Linked DNA regions of Homo sapiens. The protein of the gene in region 3 interacts with the protein of the main gene of each other region in a biochemical or structural test. Each region holds a gene or a part of one and is shown on either strand. Other genes may lie near its edges. The genes, in order: BLNK, STAT5A, BTK and SH3BP5.

What was found.
Region 1: the proteins of BTK (region 3) and BLNK interact in a biophysical measurement, tested with the Homo sapiens proteins (one study listed by IntAct).
Region 2: the proteins of BTK (region 3) and STAT5A form a complex in vitro, tested with the Homo sapiens proteins (one study listed by BioGRID).
Region 4: the proteins of BTK (region 3) and SH3BP5 form a complex in vitro, tested with the Homo sapiens proteins (2 studies listed by BioGRID, with this or other methods).

Annotation. Positions count from the first base shown.
Region 1 is NC_000010.11:96,191,555-96,198,577, reverse strand, and holds part of BLNK (B-cell linker protein), read left to right. Parts: intron 1-1,514; coding exon 1,515-1,670; intron 1,671-6,485; coding exon 6,486-6,605; 3' UTR 6,606-7,023. UniProt on the Homo sapiens protein: Functions as a central linker protein, downstream of the B-cell receptor (BCR), bridging the SYK kinase to a multitude of signaling pathways and regulating biological outcomes of B-cell function and development.
Region 2 is NC_000017.11:42,283,501-42,291,505, forward strand, and holds the start of STAT5A (signal transducer and activator of transcription 5A), read left to right. Parts: upstream 1-4,997; 5' UTR 4,998-5,098; intron 5,099-5,429; exon of another isoform or gene 5,430-5,901; 5' UTR 5,902-5,911; coding exon 5,912-6,039; intron 6,040-6,365; coding exon 6,366-6,522; intron 6,523-8,005. UniProt on the Homo sapiens protein: Carries out a dual function: signal transduction and activation of transcription. Mediates cellular responses to the cytokine KITLG/SCF and other growth factors. Mediates cellular responses to ERBB4.
Region 3 is NC_000023.11:101,369,180-101,376,202, forward strand, and holds part of BTK (tyrosine-protein kinase BTK), read right to left. Parts: intron 6,136-7,023; coding exon of another isoform or gene 6,106-6,135; coding exon 5,965-6,105; intron 5,456-5,964; coding exon 5,357-5,455; intron 2,523-5,356; coding exon 2,454-2,522; intron 901-2,453; coding exon 819-900; intron 1-818. UniProt on the Homo sapiens protein: Non-receptor tyrosine kinase indispensable for B lymphocyte development, differentiation and signaling. Binding of antigen to the B-cell antigen receptor (BCR) triggers signaling that ultimately leads to B-cell activation.
Region 4 is NC_000003.12:15,266,570-15,273,592, forward strand, and holds part of SH3BP5 (SH3 domain-binding protein 5), read right to left. Parts: intron 6,811-7,023; exon of another isoform or gene 6,547-6,810; intron 5,292-6,546; exon of another isoform or gene 5,187-5,291; intron 3,309-5,186; coding exon 3,144-3,308; intron 1-3,143. UniProt on the Homo sapiens protein: Functions as a guanine nucleotide exchange factor (GEF) with specificity for RAB11A and RAB25. Inhibits the auto- and transphosphorylation activity of BTK. Plays a negative regulatory role in BTK-related cytoplasmic signaling in B-cells.

The DNA.
Region 1 (7,023 bases), on a different chromosome or scaffold from region 3:
TCTTGAGAAGTCTGATACCAATGTGACTTTCTTGCCCTTCTATGTAATTTGATACTTTAGTCTGGTGGCTCTGCAGACTTTTTGTTTTTAAAGTCTAATCATTTTACCAGAATATATCTCTGAGTTGATAATTCCAAATCAATTTTCTCAAGTAGACAGAAGCCCTTTCAATACGTAGATTTAAGTTTTCTCTTATATCCAATAAGTTTTCTTAGATCATAGTCTTAAAGGGTTGTTCTGTTCCCTTATTTGTTTTTCTTCTGCAAGCACTCAATTTACATGCGTTTTGGATCTTTTTTGTCATTTTTTCTCCCATCACTGTCTTTGATTCTATGGTACTTATTTTATTAAATCCCATTTTCTCTCCTGGTTGTTTCCACACCTTCCTTCAAGTGTCATTTCTTAAATCTTCATTTGAAGCTCTCGTCCCTTGGACATCTTATAATTTGTTCTTTGTTGAGATAGGCTTGTCTTTTTCTTCAGTTTGTTTCCTGAGTTTGATCAACTCTTGTTGCATTTCATTCTGCTTTTTGTCCATCTTTTGTTCGTAATTTTTTATTTTATGATTCTAAATATTTTTATTAAAAAATTTAATAAAATTTGAATTACTGTCTTACAGTTTGGGGATTTTTTTTTCTTTTTCTTTTTCTTTCTTTTTTTTTTTGATGTTGTCTCGCTCTGTCACCCAGGCTGGAGTGCAGTGGCACGATCTTGGCTCACTGCAAACTCCGTCTCCTGGGTTCACGCCATTCTTCTGCCTCAGCCTCCCGAGTAGCTGGGACTACAGGTGCCCGCCACTATGCCCGGCTAGGGATTTTTTTTCTTATAAAAGTTCTTTGAGGAGAGAATTTTCATAATGAGGTCAGTCTGACCCAAGATTTTAGTCCAGGGGCAAATATAAAATGAAAGTTTTGATTCCCAACCTCTGTTTTCTTCTTATAGTACTTATGAATGGAATTTGTTTGATACATTTTTTTTCATAGACAACTGGTGGCTATGGTTCCCAGTTCAAGAGAGTCCTCTAGATTTGATCTTAATGTGTCCCTTCACATATTTCTAAATTTTATAAACATAAAACCTTATTTAGCACATTAAAAAGCTAGCATTTAGCTGGGCATGGTGGTGCATGCCAGTAGTCCCAGGTACTCAGGAGGCTGAGGTGGGAGGATCGCTTGAACTCAGGAGTTCCAGGCTGTAGTGGACTGTGATTGCACCACTGCACACCAGCCTGGGCAACAAAGTGAGACTGTTTCTAAAAATAATTAATTAATTATTACCTTTTTTTCAAAAAAGGCAAGCATTGATCTCACTCAGGATTTTCTATGAGTATATATTTTCCTGGACTATTTTCTTAGAAAATAAGAAGACAAGCGCTAATCAATAATAAAAATAATGTAGCTAAATAATTTACCTTTGGAATGTAATATAGGTGTTCTTCACAAAATGATTTTTTGAACCTGTAGAAATATAAGTAATACTAACCATAATTATGTTTTTTAAAAAAAATTAAACAGGATGGATCATTTCTTATTCGGAAAAGCTCTGGCCATGATTCCAAACAACCATATACACTAGTTGTATTCTTTAATAAGCGAGTATATAATATTCCTGTGCGATTTATTGAAGCAACAAAACAATATGCCTTGGGCAGAAAGAAAAATGGTGAAGAGGTCAGTGATTTCTTTTTAAATTCAATTCTATAACTATGCATTGAGTATAATGACATCAAATACTGTATTAGATGCTAGAGATGAGGAGAAAGGATACAAAAGTACTTGTTCTAATGCTTGCATAAATGTCATAGAGAACAAGATAAAATACTATATTTAGGCAGTATATCCTATAAGAACACAGAAAAGGAAAAAGTCATGTGATGTACATGCTAGTCCTTTCATTCAGTTATTTAATGAGGTCAGTCTGACCCAAGATTTTAGTCCAGGGGCAAATATAAATCAAGGTTGAAATGTCAAGTTGAATTAAGGTTGTAAGAATTAGGGTCAAGTTCCAGACCTCCAAAGTCAAGACCTAAAATCTCAACTCAAGTACCAAGGTAGGTTACCAGGGAAGGATCCAGAAGAGATGCAGAAACTTGAGTTAAAACATTAGACTATAGCCCTTGTACCAGAATGAGCTTATGGGCCTGGAGCAAGAAAAAAAAATCACATGGGTCTTAAATATTAATCAAACATTAACTTTAATGCCTCTTTAATCTGGACCAAACTCAGTGCTTACCATATCTCAGTTTAGCCAGCCTGCTCCTATAAATGAACCCTGAAATATGAGCTGGAGTAACCCATGAATGGTCTAGAAATGCAGTGATACTTATTCTGGTTTTGAATTACGGGTTGAATTTAAATGGGTAGAATGTAAGTTGGAGGGATGGAGAAGGAGAAAAATGGGAAGAACAATCTATGCAGAGAAAATAGCATAAACAAAATTCAAGGTAAGAAATATTTACTTTCAAGATTCCTTCAGAAAAAGGTACACCATTCCAAACCCAGCACCTGCTAGAAAATATTTGAATTGTTGGAAAATGTCATGATTGCTGAAGTGTCTGTCTTCCCCACTACATGAAGCCAAGGACAATGTCTTTTCATCTCTGTATTTCCAGAATCAGAGCACAGTAACTGGCTTCAGTGTACACTTGATAAATAATTATTAAGCAACTGAATTGATTTGGTTGAGTGATTACAGGCAGGAGAATAGCATTTGCAAAACAAACTGAAAAAGTCATGTGTATTCTTTATTTTGCCTTTTAGACAACTGTGGTTAAAAAACCACATATAAAATTTACCATCTTAATCATTTTAAGTGTACAGCTCAGTAATAAGTATATTTACATTGTTGTGAAACAGATCTCCAGAACTTGTTCATCTTATAGAACTAAAACCCTATACCCACTGAACAACAGTTTCCCTTTTCCCCCTCCCTTCAGCCCCTAGCAACCACGTTCTATTTTTATGAATTTGAATATTTTAGATACCTCATACAAGTGGAATCACACAGTATTTGTCCTTTAGGACCAGCTTATTTAACTTAGCATGATGTCCTTGAGACTCATCCATGTTGTAGCATGTGTTAGGATTTCCTTCCTTTTTAAGGCTGCATAGTATCTCATTGTATCTATATACCACATTTTGTGTGTCTAACATCCATCAGTGGACATTTGTGTTGCTTCTACCTCTTGGCTATTGTGAATAGTGCTGCTATAAACACGGGTGTGCAAATCTCTCCAGGACACTGCTTTCAATTATTTGGGGGTATATACCCAGAAGTGGGATTGCTGGATGATATGGGTATTCTATTTTTAATTTTTTGAGAACCTCCCATACTTTTTTCCATAGCAGTTGCACCATTTTACAGTTCCACCAACAGCACACGAGGGTTTAACTTCTTCACATCCCCACCAGCACTTGTTATATTCTGAATTGTGTTGTTGTTTTATAGTAGCCGTCCAAATGGGTGTAAGGTGATAGACAGCTCATTGTGGTTTTAATTTGCATTTCTCTGGCCGGGCGCGGTGGCTCACGCCTGTAATCCCAGCACTTTGGGAGGCCGAGACGGGCGGATCACGAGGTCAGGAGATCGAGACCATCCTGGCTAACACGGTGAAACCCCGTCTCTACTAAAAATACAAAAATTAGCCGGGCATGGTGGCGCGTGCCTGTAGTCCCAGCTACACAGGAGGCTGAGGCAGGAGAATGGCGTGAACCCGGGAGGCGGAGCTTGCAGTGAGTCGAGATCGCGCCACTGCACTCCAGCCTGGGCGACAGAGCGAGACTCCGTCTCAAAAAAAAAAAAAAAAAAAATTTGCATTTCTCTGATGATTAGTGATGTTGAACATTTTTCATATGCTTTTTTGGCTACTTGTAAGTCATTTTCAGAGAAATGTCTATTCCATTTTATAATCAGGTTATTTGATTTTTGTTGTTGCTGAGTTTTAGGAGTTCTTTATGTTTCTGGATATTAACCCCTTATCAGATAAATGATTTGCAAATATTTTTCCCACTCCATAGGTTACCTTTCCACTCTGTTGATTGTGTTATTTGCTGAGCAAAAGCTTTTAAGCTTGATATTGTCTTCTCTATTTTTGCTTTTTTTGCCTATGCTTTTAATGTCATATCCAAAAAATCATTGCCAAATCCAGTGTCATGGTGTTTCCCCCCTACATTTTCTTCTAGAATTTTTATATTGGGGAATTTTATTTTGCTTTTAACAAAGTCTCAGATAATTTTAAAATGCAAAACTCTTGAATCTAAGGGCACTAATCAAGACCAATCTTTGGTTTTAAAATGTAGACCGCATTATCATTTAACATCCTAAAGCTTCTCCAGCAGTCTAGCTTTTCTATAAGAGGCTTAAGGGTGGGTGAAGAAGCTGTCCTATTTCGAGGTCCTGAAATTCTCTCACAAATTTTGAACTCCCTGAGGGGCTCTGGATTTCGTTGTCCTGCTAGGAAACTCTGGTAAACAGGAATTCCTCTTGGCCTGATGAATCTTCATCTCCACTTTAGAATGAATAGACTAGAGCTTCACCTCACTTCCAACATATTCAGCCTATGGATTCCAAAATAAGTAATATATTACTATAATAGCATCTGGAGGTACTGACAGTCAATTAAAACTCTTACTTAAAGTATCTATAATAAAAAGATTATGTCCCCTATACACTGAACATCTGAATGGAAAATTAAAGTGTTGGTTACATGATGTCAATCATGTGGAGTTTTTCTGAAAGTCTGTGTGTATTTGTGTGTACATGGCTAGAAAAAGTAACCAATTCATTAACTATTTAACTGTTTATGCAGCTATTTTGGCACTGTGTGATACAACATTGAGTAATTTTACAGTTTTGACAACTGTCTGCTTTATCTTAGTGGCCAATACGTTGTTTTTCTGTCCACAAATACACTGAATGTATCTGTCTCAAATACACTGAATTAATAAAAACAGAAAAAAAGGAGAGTGAGGGGAAGCTGTAACTATGTTATGCCCAATTCTTTTTTAAATTAAATCACAAATATTCTTCAACTTCATTCCCTACTTCAAATGTTTCAACTCAGCTCAACTCCCTACTGCACACACTTCAATCCCCGAACACCACAACAAGGCAATACTCACAAATATTCAGGGACTAGAGGGACGGAATGAGATATTTGTTTGTATAAGTACAGCAATCCTCTCCTATGCTTCCTAGGTTCAGGACACACTTTTTCCCTTGTAATCCACTTCAAAGAGATTGTGCTATTTCGTTTTCTGGCCCTTGAGTCCATAACTTTAACTTTCAACTGCATTTGGTTTAGCAACATATTATGCCAAACAAGCAGAATGAATGTTTAATGGGATTTATAATGAAAGAATTTCTTTGGCAATTGCAAGATGGCTGAATGATTGAATAGGAAGTAAAGAATAAAGACTAAAGGTATTTGAAAGTCCCTGTCTCTTACCTCTCTCCCTGACTGAATATTCAGCTAGCCAATTATCTAAAAGACAACTGGTATTTCATTTGGAAATGTTGGCCAATATTCTGAATATTTTACTTTATTCAATATGTAGCTACTTGGAAGTCATCCAAACAATTAATAAACACTTAAAAATTTTACTGTGGATGTTTGTCTTTATCTAAAAAATCGAGAAAATAAAATCAATTGATAGTAACTGCTAAACTCATGGCACTGTTGTAAAACAATCACCACTTTTAAAAAGTGATTCTAAATACATTTAATGAGTGTGAACTTGTAGCACTTTTGTATACTCAATGAATTTAATTTCATGATCTGTGTTACATTTGTTTTTATCTTTCCTTCAAAACTTTAATTATTTTTCAGAACAAAATTTGTGATAATTTTAAATTAAAACCCATAGACAACAAGGATCAAAATTTGGAAAAATAAGTATGTATGGAGAGAGCCTAGCATGAAATTTCATTATTAATTAGGCACTAAGTTAACTCTAAGCTTACCAGGAACCAAGTAAAAATGGAAATATGAAGGTTTATAAAGCTTTCTTTATTTGTTTAAAAAAGAAAACAAAACATAATTTTGTTTAGGAGATGACTATTTCCTTGTACTAAATTTCTAAGGTTAATTTATTACATCAATTCTTGTATCTGAGACTTGTGCAAAGTAAGAGATGATCTATGTTTTGTAAAGAATGTAGAAAAATGCGTTGTATGATAGTTTTACATTTAACGGTAAATAAAAAGCAATATACTATAATATTTTATCATAACTCAGTGAAGTAATCTCTCTAAGTAGCTATGCTAATTGAGGCTGTCAGTGTGTTTTTCTTCGTACTTAATACAGCAAAGTCCAAGGTCTGCCACCTTGAAGGTTACAGCCTTTGTTAAACTAGATTTTTTTGTGCAGAATGTCAGCTGGGGTGTAATAACTTTTACTAACTTGAGAATGAGAGAAGATGGGAGGAGTGGAGCTCAAATTTAACACAAATGCCAAAGTATAATTCATCTATGTTTTCTTCCTCTAGTACTTTGGAAGTGTTGCTGAAATCATCAGGAATCATCAACATAGTCCTTTGGTTCTTATTGACAGTCAGAATAACACAAAAGATTCCACCAGACTGAAGTATGCAGTTAAAGTTTCATAAAGGGGGAAAAAAAAGATCAATACCATTGCTTCAGACACTTTCCCAAAGTTTCTCCTTTTGAGAAAAAGTCCCAAAACTTCATATTTTGGATTATGAATCATCCAGTAATAAAATGGAAGATGGAGTCAGCTATTGAAGTGGTCATCCATTTCTTTTTAAGAAGCTCATGTGGACTTGTTCTATTGCCTGACCTGATGAACTGTTAATATCTGGTGAGGTTGAGTTATCATGCTACTAATATTTTCCAAATAAATATTTTTATTTTTAAAAATAAGTGTAAAGTATATTATCAAAATAAGAAAATAATGCTCTTGCATAAAACAAAGTGGCTGGAAATTTAAACCTCCACAATGATCATTGGTACACTAATGTAGCTGGGCTCTCCACTGCCAATGCTTGACAATTAAGTCTTGGTTAA
Region 2 (8,005 bases), on a different chromosome or scaffold from region 3:
AGGACTCCTCTCCTACCCACCCTGTCCAGCCCCACACCCTTCCCCTCATGCTATTCCCAGAAACAGAGGACAGTCACTATGCCTCAGGCAGGATGGCCTTGTGTTCTCTTGGTGACTTCACTGTAAAGTGACTTCCCTGAAGAGTGGTGGATAGGGGACAGCGGCAGGAACGGGCTTCACCCAAGCTCCGGCAGCTCCTTCCCTTCCCCCAGATTTGCACAGAAGTCCTCACCCTGTGCATATAAACACACACCCTCCCTAGGTCCTGATCTGTCTTCTTGGACAAGAATGGGGGTGGCATTTCTATAGGGAGGTACCAGGGCCTGGCCTCAGAGGTGGGGTATACTCTGAGCATGGGCCCATGGCCCCACTTCTAGAAGCCTTCTCCGGTGGGGGCTGGAGTGCAGGTAGGCTGTCCAAGCAGAGGCAAGGTGGGGGTGAAACAGGATGTTTAAGTGCTCCAGGGCTTCTCCCCTTTGCCGCAGGGTGAAAAGATACTTCCTAGAAAGCCTCCAGCTTTCTTGGGAAGGCCCTTCACCCCTACCCCACCTCCCCTCTGGCTCCCATGTAACAGGAACTCTCCTTGAAGAAGGGACTTGGAGCACAGGAAACAAAGGCATCTCTGTACCACCTCCCTCCACCCCCCAAGGAAGGTCAAGTCAAGGTGACCTCAATCTGTTCTCCCCAGGGTAGGGGCATGGGCAGACCTGATCGTCAAGGGCAAGGCAGAAAGGGGACCTGGGATAATTCTTTCTCTCTCCCTCTTTTTTTTTTTTTCTTTTTGTGACGGAGTTTCGCTTTTGTTGCCCAGGCTGGAGTGCAACGGCGTGATCTCAGCTAACTGCAACCTCCACCTCCCTGGTTCAAGTGATTATCCTGCCTCAGCGTACTGAGTAGCTGGGACTACAGGTGTGCACCACCACGCCCAGCTAATTTTTGGATTTTTAGTAGAGACGGGGTTTCACCATATTGGCCAGGCTGATCTCGAACTCCTGACCTCAGGTGATGCACCCGCCTCAGCCTCCCAAAGTGCTGGGACTACAGGCGTGAGCCACCATGCCCGGCCCTTTGGGATAATTCTCTTAATCCATAAACTCAAACCCACCTTCATGTAAGTGTGCACAGAGCACACTGTCCCATTCAATAGAGCAGGGGTGTAGGCTGGGCGAGAATGGAGATGCCATGCTCCGCACCGCAGAAAAATGGTGGGCTAGCCCAGCCCAGGGAGGCCTCTTCACTCCGCCGGTGTGTGCTGGGCTTGGGGAAGCTTAGAAAGGTTATACTGAGACCCTGCCCACAAGGCCCGGCAACTTGGATCCTGGTGCCATCTGTGCACTTACTGGCCAGACAGCTTTGGGCAGGTTTCTTTCATGGACTAATCAAAGGGTGTGATTCTGGCCCTGACTGCCTTCAAGGTTATTGAAAGGATCCGTTGAGTTGAAGAGCACAACCATGTCTGTACACAAATGTGCCTTGATGTAGTTCAGGATACGAATATAGTGTGCCAACTGAAGCCTAGGCTGCAGACTATTATTATTCCTAATAAAATATAGGAGGTCTTCTTTTGGAGAATATATTGCTTTTTTTTTTTTCTTTTCTTTTTTTTTGAGACAGAGTCTGACTCTGTTGCCCAGGCTGGAGTGCAGTGGTATGATCTCGGCTCACTGCAACCTCCGCCTCCTGTGTTCAAGAGATTCTTGTGCCTCAGCCTCCCGAGTAGCTGGGATTACAGGTGCGTGACACCACGCCCAGCTAATTGTTTTGTATTTTTAGTAGACACGAGGTTTCACCATGTTGGTCAGACTGGTCTCAAACTCCTGGCCTCAAGTGATCCTCCCACCTCAGCCTCCCAGAGTGCTGGGATTACAGGCGTGAGCCACTGCACCTAGCCTGGGGAATATATTTCTGTAAGATTTCTAAAATCCTTCCTCACTCCCCATCTAATACTGTGACTTGGATTTGGGGGTGAAGAGCAGTTAGGGGCAAGGAGGCCAGCCTCGGACCGCAGCTCAGTCAGACCCTTGACAGTTTCTGATCTTCCTGAACCCCCATCCCGTGGCCTCAGTTTTCTCCTCCACAGCCTGGTTCCCCAAAATCACCAGGGCACTTTGTGGTGGGAAATCACCCACACAAGGGGACAAACAAGGGGACTGAAAGCAAAAAGAAACCCCAAATTTGACATTTCTGGGTAGTTGTGTTATCTGGAGCCACGACTACAGTCACCTCTTCCCAACCCAACTCTGACACCCTTCCCTCTACTCCCTTGGGTGCCCTTTGCCCATCCTGGGAAAGTTCCATAGCTCCTCCTCCTCCCCACTGCATCTCAAAGGGAGAACAGGCCTGAAGAAATGGAGAGAAACCCAGACAGAATCAGAGAACCAGATGGAGACCTAAGGAGACAAGGGAGAGACACAGAGAGAATAAAAGCCAGAGTGGGGGCCGGGCATGGTAGCTGATGCCTGTAATTCCAGCACTTTGGGAGGCCGAGGCGGGTGGATCACCTGAGGTCGGGAGTTCGAGACCAGCCTGACCAACATGGAGAAACACCGCCTCTACTAAAAATACAAAATTAGAAATACAAAATTAGCCAGGAGTGGTGGCACATGCCTGTAATCCCAGCTACTCGGGAGGCTGAGGTAGGAGAATCGCTTGAACCTTGGAGGTGGAGGTTGCTGTGAGCCAAGATCGCGCCATTGCACTCCAGTCTGGGCAACGAGAGCGAAACTCCATCTCAAAAAAAAAAAAAAAAAAAAAACCCAGAAGGGGAAATGTGCAATGAAAGACACAGATATTCGGGGCCTTACAGTCAGAGACCAAATGAGGGATGGTCAACCAAGGGCACAGCCACTGGGCACAGGGTCAGGGTGGGAGGCACGGGAGGGCTCTGAAAACACAGCCACACACCCTTTTAGGCCCATCCTTCCCATTCTGTACTCTGGCACCTCAATGCTAGCTTTTTAGGACCTAGGACTACCCACACTAAAGCCAAGCCCGGCCCAACCAAGACAGATGTTTGGTGGGTGGGGCTGCCTGCTGGAGCAACAGGCCTCTGCAGGCCCTGGAGGAGAAGTCTAGAGAGGTGGCTGCCTGGAAGAGAGCAGGCAGGACCCCCTCTCTTAAGCAGGCACCCCCACCCCATCAGGTGCCCAGATGTCAGTGCATGGCAAGGGTGGCCCTCTGCCCTCCAGACCTGGGTGAGAGGACTTGAAAACCTGAGGAATCTGCTCCCATCAACTGACTTCCACACCTGCCTGAAGGGAACTGCTGGAGGGCACAGGTGCCAAGTGGGACCCACCCAAATGTGGCAATGGGTTTGTATCCAGCCACCGACAGGCTGCATGACGGTGGCAAAGTCACTTCCCCTCTCTGGCCTTTGTTTTTCCACTTGTAAAATCATCTTTATGGTCACTTCCAGCTGTGGCACTTGGCTTTCATTCCAGTTGACCCCCTAGCTCTGTGTCTGACCCTCCCCTGCCAAATCCATTGCTCAGAGTGGGAAAGGAGAGGAGAGGGACTATACTTCCTCCTCCCTGGGGCCCCCTGCAGAGCATCTGGGAAGCAAGGCTTCCCTACATCCTCCATGCACCCCCTTAGAGTTTTCAATTCCTTTCCTCGTGATCCTGCCAACTAAGACACTGTGACCACACAGAGAAGGTGGGGAGAACGCAGACATTTTGGCTTCTGCAGCTTTGAAGTTCTTTTTTTTTTTTTCCTCTGAAGTTAAAAGAATGAAACTGGGAGAGGTAGTAAGGGGCAAGAAAGGAGAGTGGAAATGGAGAGAAAAGGGCAGCTCTGAGAAGCAGCTGGGGAGGGAGGCAGATGAGAATGCACCCCCCCCAACAGAACATGCAGTCTTGGCCCAGCTGTGCTGTGAGTGGGCAGCTGGGCTGGCCCCTCCTCTGGTGCTGCCAACCCGCTGCCAGGCAGAGGGGAGGCCCAGAGGAGAGGGAAGCTGGGCAAAGGGGATGGAAGGCGTCCAGCCCGACCTTACCAAACCCCTTGGGCCTCGTGGGAAGGGGCCTCTTGGAGAGGGGGACTGAGGCTCTAGACAGGATATTCACTGCTGTGGCAAGGCCTGTAGAGAGTTTCGAAGTTAGGAGGACTCAAGACGGTCCCTCCCTGGACTTTTCTGAAGGTAGAACCAGCCTCATAAGTAACTAGGCTGGGTGAACGGGGGCGCTGGCTAGTTTATGGATCACAGTCGGCTGGTGAGGCCACGTGCCTACTGTGTGGCCCTGGGTGGCCCCGGGCAAGCCCCTTTCCCTCTCAGGACTTCCATTTCTTACCTGCAAAATTGTGGAGAGGGGGAGGGCTGAAACACATGACTGCCAAGATTCTTTCCAGTTCCTCCGTCAGGGTTGAGTTTAGATGGCCGGAGTAAAAGAAGGAGGGAGGTGCTGCGGTGGTGGGGGTGATCTTGGCTTCACTAGAATCCCCAGTTCTTCCCCTCTCTACAGTTTTGTCTCTGAGGTCACAAAACCTGTGGCCCCCAAGACACACATGCGCACACACGCGCGTGCACACACACACCCCACACATTTATTTTTTAATCTAGGGGCTCAAAAGATGACACGCGCCAGAGCTGGAAGGCGTCGCCAATTGGTCCACTTTTCCCTCCTCCCTTTTTGCGGATGAGAAAACTGAGGCCCAGGTTTGGGATTTCCAGAGCCCGGGATTTCCCGGCAACGCCCGACAACCACATTCCCCCGGCTATTCTGACCCGCCCCGGTTCCGGGACGCTCCCTGGGAGCCGCCGCCGAGGGCCTGCTGGGACTCCCGGGGGACCCCGCCGTCGGGGCAGCCCCCACGCCCGGCGCCGCCCGCCGGGAACGGCCGCCGCTGTTGCGCACTTGCAGGGGAGCCGGCGACTGAGGGCGAGGCAGGGAGGGAGCAAGCGGGGCTGGGAGGGCTGCTGGCGCGGGCTCGCGCGCTGTGTATGGTCTATCGCAGGCAGCTGACCTTTGAGGAGGAAATCGCTGCTCTCCGCTCCTTCCTGTAGTAACAGCCGCCGCTGCCGCCGCCGCCAGGAACCCCGGCCGGGAGCGAGAGCCGCGGGGCGCAGAGCCGGCCCGGCTGCCGGACGGTGCGGCCCCACCAGGTGGGTGACCCGGTGGCGCGTCCTCGGCGGCGCGCCGAGAGGGGACACTCTACTGCCGCCCCGGCACCTCCGGCACCCGGAGCTCGACGGCCGGGCGCAGCGCGGGGATCAGTCCCCGGCACTGCGAGGGAGTTGGCCCAGCGCAGACGAGGGACGGGGGGACGTGGGGACAGGGGTCGGGGATGAAAGGCAGAGGCCAGGGAGGGCGCCGTCCTGGCACGCCTCGGAGAGGGAGCACCTGTCGGGCTGGACCCGGGGAGGCACTAGTGCACAGATGGGGGAGCAGCCGAAGAGGGGAGCGCCCAAGTCCTCAGCCCTGTCTCCTGAACAGCCCCAGCCACGTGCCCGAAAAGCCCTAGCCGTCGAGTGGGAGCCGTCGTGGCGCTGGCCTAACTTCGGGTTGGAATATCTCCCCTTCCCAGAAACCGGGCCCGAGGTGGGCTGGGGGATCCTTGCAGCCCTCTCCAGGGGGCCTGTGGGCCTCCCGCCGTCAAGTTTCTCTTTCAGTTTCTGGCCGTCCCCCTCACTAGGGAAGCTCCGGTGGGGCGAGGGGAGAGGAAGACGGGGAGGGCACCTGCCTCTGCAGAGCACCTTCCCCTCCCCTTCAGCGGGTTCCTTGTTGGAGGGGATGGGCGGCCCTCCACTCCTCACCATCTCTGTTCCCGCACAGGAAAGCTATCTGTGGGAGGGGAGGGGCCTGGCCTGGCCGCGGTCCAGGGATAGGTAGGCATGGCAAGGCCAGGGGCAGGCCCGGTTCCTTGGCCTCTGCAGAGGAGAGCGCTTCAGCGCTCGGCTCGCCCTAGGTGAACGGCCATGGCGGGCTGGATCCAGGCCCAGCAGCTGCAGGGAGACGCGCTGCGCCAGATGCAGGTGCTGTACGGCCAGCACTTCCCCATCGAGGTCCGGCACTACTTGGCCCAGTGGATTGAGAGCCAGCCATGGTAGGCACGTCCCGCCCTGCCCCTCCTCAGAGGGTCCCTACCATCCAGGCCCTTTGGCCTCTAGTTTTACTCATGGTGGTTTGGTGTGACTCTGGTCCTGCCTGTCCTTCTTTGTGCGGAAGGGGTGGTGCCCCTGGGAAAGGGGAAGCCTGGGAGGACAGAGAATGTTTTTAGACTCGGATGTCTGTGGAGCTGCTGGGAACAAGTCTTGTGGGCCCTGGAGTGCCCTCGGTCATGAGCCTGGGGTTTCCACTTTATTCCAGCTCCCTGACCTCCTTGCCCAAGGAGGTGCCACAGTAGGTTTTTCTCTTCTGCCCTGCCCCAAGGGATGCCATTGACTTGGACAATCCCCAGGACAGAGCCCAAGCCACCCAGCTCCTGGAGGGCCTGGTGCAGGAGCTGCAGAAGAAGGCGGAGCACCAGGTGGGGGAAGATGGGTTTTTACTGAAGATCAAGCTGGGGCACTACGCCACGCAGCTCCAGGTGGGTGTAGGCTCTGGGCCACCTACGGGGAGGAAGCATCATCTTGTTCCAGCATCAGAACCCCTGGGTTTTTTCCTGGCCTGGCCACTGACTCACCATGTGACCACGAACTTATTGGGAACTTTTCTTCGATTTCCCCCACCCCCTCTTTCTAAATTCGACCTGTCGGATTTCTTTAGCATATTGCAAAGCAAGGGTGGGAGGTGTTTGTTGCCAACAGAGAGAGATGGGTGAACTGGCCTTATGGAAGCAGCAGAAGGGATGGAGGGAGACTGAGTCAGGATTCCTATGTTGGAGAAGGGAAGACCAGCAGACTCTAGAAATGAGGCCACCAGACCTCCCTCTTGGGGTCTTTTAAAGGTGAGAGAGGAGCCATCCCAGAGACAAGAGCTGGACACAAGGGCTTTGAATTGAGGGTTTAGAAATAAGATGTAGCTTCTTTACTTGAGGGGAGTGGGTATGGAGGAAGAGAGGGAGTTTTTGTGGAAGCAGGAAAGGGGTGTGGGTAGTGATGACAGTCAAGCACTTATTGGAACTCACGTATGTTTCCTAGAGAGCCCTTCAATACAGACAGCAGGGTGCCAGGGAAATACAAGTCCATCCCAGAAGAGGGGGAAAACAGGAGAAGCCTGAGGGGAAGCAATATAGGAGGCCAGGGGCAGGATGGTGGGAAGTACCTTGACCTTGGCATCAGATGCCCTGAGTCTGGAGTCATCTGCTCTCTCACTTGGTTGCGTCTGGACGAGTACATAATGTCTGAGCATCAGTTTTCTCATCTGTGAAATGGGGATCATAGTTTCTGCTTATGTCCTAGAGTTTCCATGCTGTTAGTGCCTTGATCCCCCACCACTTTTTGGCACCAGGGACCGGTTTCATGGAAGACAATTTTTCCATGGACCGGGATTGGGCAGGGAGGTGGTTTCTGGATGATTCAAGAGCATCACGTTTATTGTGCACTTTATTTCTATTGTTATTACATTGTGCTATGCAATGAAATAATTATAGAACTCACCACAATGTAGGATCAGTGGGAGCCCTGAGCTTGTTTTCCTGCAACTAGACAGTCCCATCTGGGGGTGATGGGAGACAGTGACAGATCACCAGGCATTAGATTCTCTTAAGAAGTGCATAACCTAGATCCCTCGCATGTGCAGTTCACAATAGGGTTAGCATTCCTATGGGAATCCAGTGCCATTGCTGATCTGACAGGAAGCAGAGTTCAGGCTGTAATGCGAGCAATAGGCAGCAGCTGTAAATACAGATGAAGCGTCACTCACTTGCTCACCGCCGCTCACCTCCTGCTGTGTGGTCCAGTTCCTAACAGACCACCGACCTGTACCAGTCCATGGCCCAGGGGTTTGGGACCCCTGTGTTACAGTCAAAAGATACGGTAGATTGGAAGTGCTTCATAAGACTGGGTATGATGGCTCACACCTGTAATCACAGCACTTTGGGAGGCCGAGGCGGGTGGATCACCTGAGGT
Region 3 (7,023 bases):
TTTCCTTGGGAAATATTTATCCACAACAAAGAGATGTACAGTGCTTTCGTATACAGTGATTTACAGTTTTCCATGTGCTTTTACATGTATTATTACTTCATTTGATCCTTACAACAACCCCAGAGGTAGATGTGGCATGAATTACCATTATTCTCCTTTGAGAAGAAGAAACTGAGCATCAAAGAAGCTTGTTGGCCTTCTTGCCAGAAATCACCCAGTTTGTAAATGGTAAAAGAGGGCTTGAAACCAGGTTCTCTGACTCTGACTTCAAGCACTCTCATACATCATCTATTTAATTTTTTGGAGCTAGGTATTTTATACTTAGGATTCTAAATATTGCATAACCATTGAATGCCACACCACCCTTGTATTCAGTGCAAAAAATGGGACTTTTCTTAATAAATAGAGAAATGGAGGTGCCTAAAATTACAAAATTGCACTAGAGAGATAGTGATAGAACTGGGAAACTCTTAGTCTAATATTTTATCTTTTATTCATATGATGGAATACTAAGCTCAATTGTATTACTAATATTGAAACAAAATACAAACTTTCCTTTGTTTCTTTGTTATTTGTCTTTCTTTCCTCCCTCATCCCCTTCCTTCTTTCCTTGCTTCCTTCCTTCCTGTCTCCCTCCTCCCCTCCCTCTCTCTTTCTTTTCTCCCCTTCTATCCATTTTTTTCTTCTTTTCTCTCTACGTTTCTCCTTTCTCTTTCTTTCTCGTTTCTCTCTTCCTTCTTTCCTTTTCCTCCCGTCTATCTCCTCTTCCTTCCTTTCCTTCTTTCTTTGGAAACATTTATTTTCCAAATAATTCTCACCGTTTTTGAGCTGGTGAATCCACCGCTTCCTTAGTTCTTCAGTTGGGGAGAAGACGTAGAGAGGCCCTTCATCATATACAACCTGGGTCGATGAAAACACAGACTTCAGCAGTTAGGATTCAGAAAAAAGGAGAAAGACCTTGAAAGTACTAATCTTAGGGGACAATTTGTATATTTATTGTAGAAAACAAAGAAAGGCAGAATCTTCAGTCAGCAATGGTGTTCAGGTTATGTGAACTATCTGAAGGATTCCTGAACTCTTCATATCTAGGAATGTAGCGTTTAAAAGCTCTTAGAATTTTTCATACTCTTAGGTCCTCCTGACTTGTGCTTCAATTCATGCATAAACTTATTTTATAAGGTCTCCGTCTGCCCTTGCTGGAGATAACATTTTTGTTTATCCAACAAAGGGTATTTTATCTTATTATTAAATTCTGACTTTGTATAGAAGAGAAATGAAGTGATAATCTATATAAATTAAGTCTTGATTAGTACATATGGGTTATTCACTTGGATAATATGGAGTAAAATTTTAATTCATGGCTAATTACCTCCACCTCCACTACCTAGTGGCCTCCCCTCACCAATATTAGCCAAAATAAATCAAATTTGGAACTACAAACCTACTTCAAAAAGGGTAAGGTATATAATAAGCAATATCATCAAGTCAAATAGTATTTTTTTAACCATGTACAAGGCATCATGCTAGGTGTTACGAAGATGCATGAAATATATAAGATGTGGTTCCAACCCTCACAGAGTTTATAGACATCACATAATAAATTCTGAAGTCAAATATAAATTAATTTAAAATTATCTGCTGTTCAGCATTGTTCACTAGTGCAGCCAAACAATGTCATCTTGTTGAAAGGCATTGGTAGTAAAAACTGTGTCTGAAATACCCCTCTTTCAAAGGTTTCGTAAATTTGATATAGTCAGGGACACGAACAAGATCCTTTTACATTTTTCTTTTTGCTTGTTAGTCTTGCTGTGCTCATAAATCCATGACAGAAAGCCCCCTCCCCTGAGACTTTCCACTTCCTTTTCTGGCTTTCACTGTTGCAGAGGCTGCTATATTCACGACATGTGGCCTACAGAGTTCTCAGGATGTAAGCAAGCCAAACTGAAGACCAAATTTGTAGTTCTTGCTCTCCTAAACAGATGCATATGTGGCACTTCAGCTCTTCCAGATTACAACAGAATTTAGGTTTATGCATAAGTCTAATAAGTCTTCCTCATACTGAACTTCCTAATACTACTCCCCTTTTCTATCTTTTCAACCCACATGACCACTATTAGACAGATAGTCAGAACCAGAAGGAAGTGAAATGCTCACTCAACAAGCAGAGCATCTTTCTCAATGCAGTTATCATAGACAAGACACACTATGATAGAATTGGTGCTGCTATGTATTCTTTTTGAGGTATAGAGACTAAAAGAAACTATGTTAGATTAGGTAAATAGAAAAGCAAACATTCTTAGCCCATGCCAGTCTCATTTCTTGGTTCAGCATCCTTGTCCACCTCAACTTCTATTCACTGGGTCCTCGTAGCCTTCCCTCTGCCCTGCACCCCACCACCCCTTCTAATTGTGTTACAGGGGCCTTTCGAGATTTGGTGAGAGAAAATAACTCACCTGGAAGGGATAAGGGAACCTTTCAATGATTGAAATTTGCTCCATTTCACTGGACTCTTCACCTCTTCTCTGTAATGAAATAAGAAAAAATGGTTATTGGTTGATGCATTGCTCTTTTCTGAATTTCCTTAGGTACTAGAAGCCTTTTGCTGTGGCTTCAGAAGTTTCTCCTGCACAGACAAGGCTGATTCTTAGTGATTACTTTCTATAGGCCAATAGGGACACATATCCAATACGACCCAACACATACCCAGTCAAGAGAGACTCAGGTATTTCAAATCACTGGGAAAATGGAGGTTTCTAAAAAATTGTTGTTGGGACAAATATTTAACCACTAACGTTGTGGGGAGGAGAGGAGTTAGGTAGCTATGCTACACCATACACCAAAGAAAATTCCAGATGGATTCAAGAGCTTAATATAAAAAATAAAACTATGAATGACTGAGAGTAAATATAAGCAATTATTTATATAATCCTGTGGGAGGCAAGCTTTTTCTAATATAAGGATGAAACTTAGAACTATTAAGAAAAACCTGAACTAATTTGATGACATAGACTTTAAATCCCTATATGGCAAAAAGCATCATAAACAAAATTGAAAGATAAAGGATAAACTGAAAAACATTTTCAACATACTTTACAGTTAAAGGATAAATGTTCTTATATCAAGATCTCTTTAAAAGTATTAGAAATGAGGTAAACATCTCAATGTAAAAAATGGACCAAAAATTAATGGGCAATTCACAAATAAAATATAAATGAGCAGTAGACCAACTTTATGAGTAAAAGAAATTGCAAAATAAGTTAGCAATAAAATGCTATTTTTTTTTTTTGAGACGGAGTCTTGCTCTGTCGTCCAGCCTGGATGTGCAGTGGTGCGATCTCGGCTCACTGCAACCTCCGCCTCCTGGGTTCAAGGGAGTCTCCTGCCTCAGCCTCCCGAGTAGCTGGGATTACAGGCTCGCGCCACCATGCCCAGCTAATTTTTGTATTTTTAGTAGAGACGGGGTTTCACCATGTTGGTCAGGCTGGTCTCGAACTCCTGCTCATGATCCGCCTGCCTTGGCCTCCCAAAGTGCTGGGATTACAGGCGTGAGCCACCACGCCCCACCTGAAATGCTATTTTTCTTGGCTGTCAAATTAACTAATATTTAAAATATCTAGTGTTGGGCTGGGCACAGTGGCTCACGCCTGTAATCCCAGCACTTTGGGAGGCCGAGGTGGGAGGATCACTTGAGGTCAGGAGTTTGAGATCAGCCTGACCAATCTGGTGAAACCCCATCTCTACTAAAAATACAAAAATTAGCAGGGTGTGGTGGTGGGCGCCTGTAGTCCCAGCTACTCAGGAGGCTGGGGCAGGAGAATCACTTGAACCGGAGGCAGAGGTTACAGTGAGCGGAGATCGCACCACTGCACTCCAGCCTGGGCGACACAGCGAGACTCCATCTCAGAAAATAATAATAATAATAAAAATAACAAAATATCTAGTGTTGGAAAAAATGTACAGAAACAGGCACTCTCATACATAGCTTGTAGGTGTGTATGAAATTCAATTCCACTTCTAGAAAATGAAATAAAAAGATAAAAATAACCAAAGTGCACAGATTTTCTTAAAGAGAAGAACAAAATTTTACTTCTAGGAAATTATCATAAGGAAAAGAATAAAAAAAGTACAGAAAGATGTATGCAAGATTGTTCCTCTCAACATGGTTTATACTATCAAGTACTTGTAGACAAACCGAATGTGTAATAATGGGAGATTAAACAAATTACAATACATCCATAATAGGGAATACCATACAGTCATTAAAATCATGTTATTAAAGAATATCTATTGTCATGGGGAAAAGTTTCCCACATATCGTTACATTGAAAAAGTACGTTACAAAGCAAGATGTGTACTATGAGTCTATGTTTTAAATATATGACATATATATAAGTGTATGCGTATGTGTTCTCAGTGAAGAAAAACATCTGTAAGTCTATGTACACCAATATGTTGATAGTTGTTTTAACTGGGTAACAGGATTATGCATCATTTTAATCTTTTTGTATTTTTTATATATTCCAGAGTTTCTGTAATAAATACGCAATTCTCCTGTGATCAAGAAAATACTGAAAATGGTCAGACCCAGTGGGTGGCTCACGCCTGTAATCTTTGCACTTTGGGAGGCCGAGACAGGCGGATCACTTGAGGCCAGGAGTTCAAGACCAGCCTGGCCAACATGGTGAAACCCCGTCTCTACTAAAAAAATACGAAAAATTAGCCAGGCATGGTGGTGCACACCTGTAATCCCAGCTACTTGGGAGGCTGAGGCATGAGAATTGCTTGAACCCGGGAGGTGAAGGTTGCAGTGAGCCAAGATGGCACCAGTGCATTCCAGCCTGGGCAACAGAGCGAGACTCTGTCTAAAAAAAGAAAAAAAAAAGAAAAAAAGAAAATACTGAAATTGATATATATTTTTTAAAAGTGAACTCAAAAATCAGTAGGTTTTATGTCTCTCGCTCCGGAAAGTGAGAAGAGAATAAATAGTAAGGTATTAAAGGATATCATGTGACTCAGAGCCCTAGGATTATGACATTCAGACTTACTTAAGCCTCTAAATCTGATCCTGAGAGAACTGAGGGAATAAAATCAATGATCTCTGACCAGTTTGAAAACTAGATATAGCATCATTTAAAAGTTTGTGTTAACAAATTTTCCATGTTTAGTGAGATGTTCTGAATATGAAGGAAAGAAGCTAAGATTCTTTATAACCAATATGGTAGAGTGAAGAATTTTTAAAGGAAACTTGACCGTGTTCCACGTTGCACAGCATCACCAGTCTATTTACAGAGAATTTAAATGTTGCAAATTTCTTCAAATCTGCTGTTCCCCATCTCAGACATTGGTCTCTTCTTACCGGAATCTGTCTTTCTGGAGGAGGATTTTTTTCAGGAACCACTGTTTCAACACAAGTGATCTTCTCAACATCTATTGAACCCTTCTTACTGCCTCTTCTCTGAGAAGTAGAATGAGGAAGAAAATGGAGAAAGATTAAGAGGGATTAAGCAACCAGATGATTAGATTTTGTTATCTAATCATTCAACAAAGTGAGGTGGCACCAGGACCTGTCATGTGGGGGAAGAAAAAAAAATCCTTCCAGATCTATAAATCTATGACTACCAAATGGAGGGCAAATACCATGGAAGAGTGAATGACTGTATGTACCTTCCTCATAGGAAGTAAGGAAGCAATTTCCAACTCTTCGATTTCATTTTCAACAATCATTTAATGAGTGCTCATCAATTCCAAGATTCCATGGTAATATTTTCCTTGTGGCTTCTTAGGACCTTTGACTTTCCGGCTTTAGCTAGTTATAGGCTAGGAAATATTTTGCTGAATTTGAAAGAACTTAGGTCCATTCTACTCCCCTCCTCCTACCAACGAAAATTTACCTCTTCCCCAAGAAAGATCTAAGGCCAAGTCCTTGATATCTTGAAACTCAGTTTTCATAGTCGAGAAACTTACCCCACGTTCAAAGTCATACTCATAGTAGGAGAGTTTGTGCACGGTCAAGAGAAACAGGCGCTTCTTGAAGTTTAGAGGTGATGTTTTCTTTTTCTGTTGGGATCGCTTCAGAAAGATGCTCTCCAGAATCACTGCGGCCATAGCTTCTTCTTTCTGGAGTTCACCTGTGTGCTGTTGATAATGAAAGTTCCTGAGGACCCAGGACATTAATCCTCATCCCTCTTGGTTCCCCCTCAGCCTAGCTACCTAGTTTCAAATGGAACAAAAATGTGCACAGCTCACAAAATAATTTCTTCCTACCAACCTCCTCCCACAGCCCCCAGCTCTGTCAGGTTTCAGGTATAATGGATGCACACTGAATTGGGGGGGGATTGGTTCGATGTTGTGAGCTCATATAAACTGAGTTCTTGTATAAGGCAATGGAATGCTCTAGATGTTAAATGGCACGCACCTGTGTGCTTGGTAAGGTGTAGAGGTAGCTTTACACTATTCACCTTTATATGATATGTGTAGAATCTGTGAAAAGCAAAAGTATCTGTGCAGCTGTTGATCTTGATATACCCAGAAGGGATAATGCAGGTGCCAGAACTCCACTGAGGCAGATATTGGACTTTCAGTTCCCAATTTCCTAGACGGTGAATATAATTTTTCAAACATTGTCCCACTGGGGTCTGTAACCAAGGGAACTAATAAGGATATGGAGGCTGCACCTGCAGTTCTGGACACACACTAACTGCTGCCCAACTGATTTTGCCCACACCCACTGACTGAGCTACAAAGGATAGAAGATTTGTTCTAAAGTTGAAAACATAATTTTTTTTGGTGGGTTTTGGTGGGGGGGGGGTAGTTGTTGTTTTCTGACCTTTTCCCCATTTAGCTTAAATTAGTTCTTTTAGACAGCATCATGCAAAAGTGATGCAACTGTCTTACTGATATAGATGCCACCTCTGTTCATTTATGAAACACAACTTATTTAGCCTCCCCAAACCTACAATACTCCAGAAGGATTCAATTTAGGTAACTGAAACACAGAAAGACAAATAAAGTTCCCAAAGTCAC
Region 4 (7,023 bases), on a different chromosome or scaffold from region 3:
CAGCTGAGGCTGAAGGGGTCCTATGCTGCCCAAGCTCCCCAGCTGGAGAGCAGCAGGGACCCCAGGCCCTGTGCCCCAAGGAAGGCTGCTCAACTACAAGGTTGGCAGCTCTGCCACAAGCTACTTGTATTTTCCAGAGTCCTCATCAACCCCAGCACTAAGCAGAAAACTGATCCTTTGTCCCTGTCTGTGCCACTGCATGTGGCCTAACAGAGCACACCAGGGCTGCTGCCACCTCCTAGTATATCGGCTTCAGCCATGGCTCCAAGTGTGGCTGCCTGATGTCACCACAGGAAGTGTGAGGGGCCGCATAGATAATCTTGGGCACGTTACGTGGGAACCCCAGTGTCCCGCTGTGCCTGGAGGGATCGTGTAGTCCAAGCCACTGCCATTTCTTCAAGACAGCCCTGGGCCTTTCTGAGCACGGAATTTTCTTTTATTAGACCCTTAAGTAATACTTTGGAAGAAGAGGGTGAGATGAAGCTCCCTTGTTCTACAGAAACAAGCATCCTAGAGTACCCAGAAGGCAGACAAGGGAGGAGACATTCTCTAGCCCTTTGATCACACAGCTTTCAGCTGGCTGAGCATGCCAGGCCCGTGAGGCTCTAGGAGGGGTCAACATGAGCACCACTGGGGGAAACGCTAAGTCCAGAGAGTTCCCAGTTACTCGACACTGTTTCAAAGCCAACCATGCAAGTGTGTGTCCTGGAGAAAGAATTATGTTCTGCATCATCCATTACATTCGGAGAGCCTGCTCTGCACGCTGAAATTCTGAGTGGCACAGGGACGTGATGGGGGAAAGCTTTGCCACAGGCTTTTGTCTCTTGCTGGTGTCTGTTTTTAACTCATCTGTTCAATGAGGGGCATTTCCAGCCTATGCAACTGTGAAGGGATCTGGGAAGAGGAATATCAGCTCAAAGGTGGAAATCCTGGCATGTGACCCGGAACACCTGCCAATCTGCAGAGGTTGCCCCCAAGCCCAAGAAAACCAAATGGGCCCTTCCCTTCAGTGGCCACAGAGAAGGCACATATCAGCTGGCCCTCCCAGGGCCCTATGAAGCCCTCATGACCTCAGGAGTACAGGGCCATCTTGTATAGCCCCACAGGTCTTGCACTGCACAACTCCAAAAAGCGCTATTCCCAAAGTCTGTGGTATGAACGGTGCCCTGAGTTATACAGTGTGGAGGTCTGGGGATGCCACTCCTTGGGAGGCCACCCACTATCCACTGGGGCCCTGGGACTTAAAAATGAGAGATACACAAAGCAGAAGCATGGTTTGTTTATCTTTAAACAACAGATTAAATGACTTCTGAAATGCTTGCTTATAGGCTGACATGGGTCTCCAGCTGGGGTGGAAGAAGGGCAAAAAGGAAAAGTGGCCCTTCAGCTAATTTCTTGGAAGAAGCTACCTTACATTTTGTCCTTTTCATATCTATCGGGCTTTGGCTTGTGAACTTCCAAGATTTCCAGCCACCCCTTCCATTTTTCTCGAGATGACCCAGAAAAGTTGTTTCTAGCCCACGTCTAGCTCTGTGAGCATCACGCCCACTAGGGGGCAGGAGGCGCAAGGCCACACAAAGCCAAGCTCAGCCGAGAGTCTCAGGCTGCAGGGAGAGGTGCGTAAAGTCAACGCGGATTTGACTCTTGAAGTCATTTGTGTGCCAAGCTTTCTATTTAAGGAAGCACAAGGCCATCTTTAATTATCAGATCCCCCAGGACTTGAGCCACTGTGGCAGGTGACATTTAAAAGGGAAATCCTATTGGCATTAACCTGCTGACTTTTCTAATCCAGTCCCCCAGACGGCTTTCTCAAGGAGTCACCAAGACCTCTTGCAACCCCGTACCCGCGCCGTCCAGGGTCTTATTGGAGCTGCTGAAGCCACAGGTCAGCTCACCCACCCACCCTGCAGCAAACCAGCCCTACACTCGTTTTCCAGGCGCTGGGAATCTAGACAGAGAATGCAGAGGGGCACAATGGACCCAGGCTGGTGTGGGGGGATACCAGGAACATGAGCCTGGGCAGCCCAGGAGCCAAGCCTGGAAGGGGGAAGAGGTATCCAGGAACATTCTGCGTGACTTCTAAGAAACCCGATAGAGTTAGGCAGGGGTAACCAAGTACTGCTGAGCCAAGAACTGTCCCTAGCTGCTATGGTCTGAACATTTGTGTCCTCCCAAAATTCTTATGTTGAAACTGATCCCCAGTGTGAGGGTATCTGGAGATAGGGCCTTTGGGAAGTGATGAGGTAATGAGGGTAGAACCATCATGAATGAGATTAGTGACCTTATAAGCTCATGTACCCCTTCCACCGTGTTAGGACATGGAAAAGATGGTCATCTGTGAACCAAGAAACAGGCCCTCATGAGACACTGAATCTACCAATGTCCTACCTACCAATGCACTTCTCATCCTCCAGAGCTGTGAAAAATAAATTTCTATTGTTTACCAACTACCCTGTTTATGGTATTTTGTTTAGTATTTTGTCTTGGCCTGTACAGACTAAGGCACACCATTTCTGGCTCTGAGTAACGCAGTCAGAGAGGTGGTCATGAGAGCCAGTAAAGAACCCAATATAATGACATAAAACCCAGCAAGCCAAGCTGTGAGTAAGGATCACACACAGTCCGCTTCCTCTGTGCCTGTCAACTCCCTGAATCCCAGCCCAGAAGGCCTGTCGTAAGTACACACCTGATTCTGGTCTAATCCGCCATGACCCCTGCCTTCCTCCGACAGCACATACCCGAAGTGCAGCCCCCATTTAGGGCTGTTCATCAAGGTCTCCCCATCACAGATTCGAAACCCAGCCAGTATTGCTGGGGTTCCATGGGAGCAAACCCTGGAAAACCTCGTCCCTCTGGAAGCCTGAGTCCAGTCAAGACCCCCTGGGGATGACCCAAACCAGACAAACCTCAAGCAACATAAGGGAAGGAGCAGCTCTCGCTGTCACGGAGAGACACTGTGACTCATTCTGGAGCACTGGCTTCGTACCAAGCGCAGCCAAGAGATCATACGGAGATGACAACCTGTGATTTTCAGGGTGTTTTCAGGCAACATGCCTGGGAGTCGAGTCTGTTACCTCCGCTCAGGGGAAGCCAGCGCGCATGCACGCGCACACCCCCACAGCACACCCGGCCATGACTCATACCCTCTGAGTGGCGTGATTCAGCATCTCCTGCCAGGCGGAGTCGAACTGCCGCTTGTCATCCTCCAGCAGCCGCTGCTCGGCCAGGGAGATGGTCTCCTTGGCGGCACGGAGCACCTCTGTGGCCCTCTGGAAGTCCTGCGTGGCTTTCTGAGCTTCCAGCTGAGCCTGTGTGAGAAAGAATCCTCATGAGGCCTCAGAAAATGGCAGGGGCTCCCCATGGTCCATTTTACCTTTCAAAAAATAAGCATCCCAAGGACCAGGACAAGCTCATCTCTGCCTCTTCACTCCTGGCACCCACAGGTCCTCATAGATGCCAGACAGGGCAATGGACCCCTGATGGGGGAGTGAGCAACAAATCAGTGAGCGAACAATTTCCACAGTTCTGGGCCCAATGGATGAGATAAACACATCAGCCCTTGGCCAGAACCTGACATGGCAAACCAGCCCATCGTGGGACAGGTACAGCCAACCCCACAGCCTTTCTCAGAAGCTCTGCCTCACTCGAGGCCTGTCACCTTCCCTGCCCAGATCTGTGGCTCAATTCATGGCAAGTCAGAACCAGGAAGGCCCCCAGAGATCATGGTCCAAAGACTTCACTCTATAGAAGGGGGACCTTAGCTGAGAGGACACAGCCTTTCCTGAGATCACACAGCTGACTAGATGCAGAGCTGTGCCAGACTCCAGCCAGTATGAGTTCCAGCCCAGCACTGTCACTCTGCCAGACAGTCTCCCACTCAACTCACACCCACTGACACCAGCGACAGGCCAAGTATGGCACCAGGCAGGCAAAGAGAAGGACCTAATTAATTAACACAACACGGTCCCTGCTTTCAAGGAGCATCAGGTGGGAGAACCAATACCAACTGTAGCTGACCACCACGTCTAGAGCTGCCCCCACTACATGTGTCTACTGATTGTTCAAAATGTGATTAATCCCAGCCAGGTGCAGTGGCTCACACCTGTAATCCCAGCACTATGGGAGGCAGGCGGATCACTTGAGGTCAGGAATTAAAGACCAGCCTGGTCAACATGGTGAAACCCCATCTCTACTAAAAACACAAAAATTAGCCAGGCATGGTGGTGGGCACCTATAATCCCAGCTACTTGGGAGGCTGAGGCAGAAGAATCACTTGAACTCAAGAGGCAGAGGCTGCAGTGAGCCGAGATTGCACCACTGCACTCCAGCCTGGGTGACAGAGTGAGACTCCATCTCAAAAAAAAAAAAAAAAAGTGATTAATCCCAATTGAATGTAAGACATCCCTAATCTTAAAGACTTAGTACAAAAAAAAAAGAATGTTAAATATCTCAATAATTTTTATTATATGATGAAATAATATTTTGGATATATTAAATTAAATTAAATATATTATTAAAATTAATTTCAGCTGGGTGCAATGGATCCCACCTCTATTCCAGCACTTTGGGGGGCCAAGGCAGGAGGACCACTTGAGGCCAGGTATTCAAGACCAGCCTGGGAAACATAGCAAGACCCTACTTCTGGAAAAAATTAAAAAATTATCCGAGCATGGTGGCACATGGCTGTATTCCCCACTCCTTGGGAGCTTGAGGCAGGAGACCGCTTGAGGTTACAGTGAAATACAATTATGCCGCTGCACTCCAACCTGGGTAACACAATGAGCCCCTGCTTCTTAAATAAATAAAATTTAAAGATTAAATTCACAGAGGCTGGGCACGGTGGCTCAAACCTGTAATCCCAGCACTTTGGGAGGCTGAGGCAGGTGGATCACAAGGTCAGGAGTTTGAGACCAGTCTGGCCAACATGGCGAAACCCTATCTCTACTAAAAATACAAAAATTAGCCGGGTGTGGTGGCATACGCCTGTAGTCCCAGCTACTCGGAAGGTTGAGGCAGAAGAATCGTTTGAACCTGGGAGGTGGAGGTTGCAGTGAGCCGAGATCACGCCATTGCACTCCAGCCTGGATGACAAGAGCGAAATTCTGTCTCAAAAAAAAAAAAAATTAATTTCACCATTTCATCTCTCCCCATCTTTCCTTTTTTACTGTGACCACAGGGAAACTTACAATTATACAGGCGATTCCAATTCTATTTCTTGTGGACAGTAGATACCTTTACCCCAAGATGGGCCATGTGATGGCAGCTGTGTGACTGCATGAGAAATCAGCACTGAAACATCACAGTCACCACTCTACAGGCTCACCTTGAATTCCCCAGCAGGGTAGAAGCCACAAACCCGCCTCTGCAGCGTCCCACCACCCTCCCTCGTCCCACCACCCTCCCTCGGTTAACCACATCCCCAAGTCAGTTACATAAGCCCTGGTGGGACGTCCCTAAGGCAGCCCCTGGGACTCGGGAAGAGGGGAACTACAGGGACCCCACCCTTCCCCAAGCAATTCTTGCATGACTTCGAGGAAGTCTTCAGAAACCACAGGCTGAGGACGCTTTGTGAAGAAGGTTAAAGAAGGGGGAACAAAAAAATCAGAGACTCAGAGCACGCCAGCCCCCAAGGCAAAGAACAGCTTTTCCCGAGCACTCTGTGATTGTGTACTGCATACCAGACCCAGACCCAGCCCTCCAGGCGACGATGACAATCAGATGGAGACCCGAACCAAGCATGGAGTGGACACTCAGAAGTCTGTAATACAACGCTGTATGTGACAGTGCCACAGCAGGAAGGGAGGAATGGCAGGGAATGTGAAGGAGAAATTATTTCCAGTACAAAGAACCAAGGAAGGCCTCTTAAAGGAGGAGGATCCCGAACTCAGGACTAAGGACACAAATGATTTGAAAACATGGGCTGATGAGGTGGGGGACAGAAGGAAGGATTTGAGACTCTAAAGACATTACAAAACAGAGTGCCTGTAGGATAAAGACATTACAAAACAGAGTGCCTGTAGGATAAAGACATTACAAAACAGAGTGCCCGTAGGATAAAGACATATTACAAAACAGAGTGCCTGTAGGATAAAGACATTACAAAACAGAGTGCCTGTAGGATAAAGACATTACAAAACAGAGTGCCTGTAGGAGATTCGATGATACCTCAGATCAAATTTTTAAAAAGGACTCCAGTGAAGACCTTGAATGAATGCCAGGCTAAACCTTCAACCAAAGTGGCCCAGGGACCTGCCCCTGCTGTGGACTCACCATGTGGCCCTGGGACCAGTCGCCCACTTCCACTCAGGTGTGCCTCAGCTACACAAGGAGAACAAGGATGCCCACCCTCCCTAGAGCTGACCAACTCACCCCCCCAACCCCTGCCCCACCTCGTGCCTCCAGGCCCATTAGTGGTTCTTAGTTCTTTCATGTGAGGACAGCCCTGCAGGGCCTCCGCAGGCCAAGCTGCTGGGAACGAGAGGAAGCAGAGGGAACCTGTCACCTTAAAAGCCACTCCACCCCCTACCCATAGGTGGCCTCTCCTACCTATATGCTTCACACCAACTCCAGGAGACAGGATGAATCCCACAGGATCCTAAAATGGGATTTGTATTTGCCTTTTTAGGAATTTTTTAGTATTTCAATTCAGCAACATTTAAGGGTAAACTCTCTTCTCCCAGTTCTCTCTGCTTCAGTTATGAATCCCTTATTTCTTCAAGCAAGAAAAGATGCTCTTTTGACGGCCTTCTGAAAGGTGGCTGCTGTACCACGGGCCCAGCACCTCTTCACACCCTCTGCCATGTATCTGATGAGTTCCAAATAAGAGAACCAGATCTCTACAAAGGAAAAGAGGAAGCCCATGTGAAGCTGCCTTTGAGAAGAACATGTGCTGTCAAATTCCGGACAAGCGTCTGAAGTTTCTGCGAGATTCCTTCTCCTGTACAGTGACATAGGATACATGTTTGCCTTGCCATATCACAGGTACAACTAATGTGAGGCCTCATTCCACATTTAACCCACAGA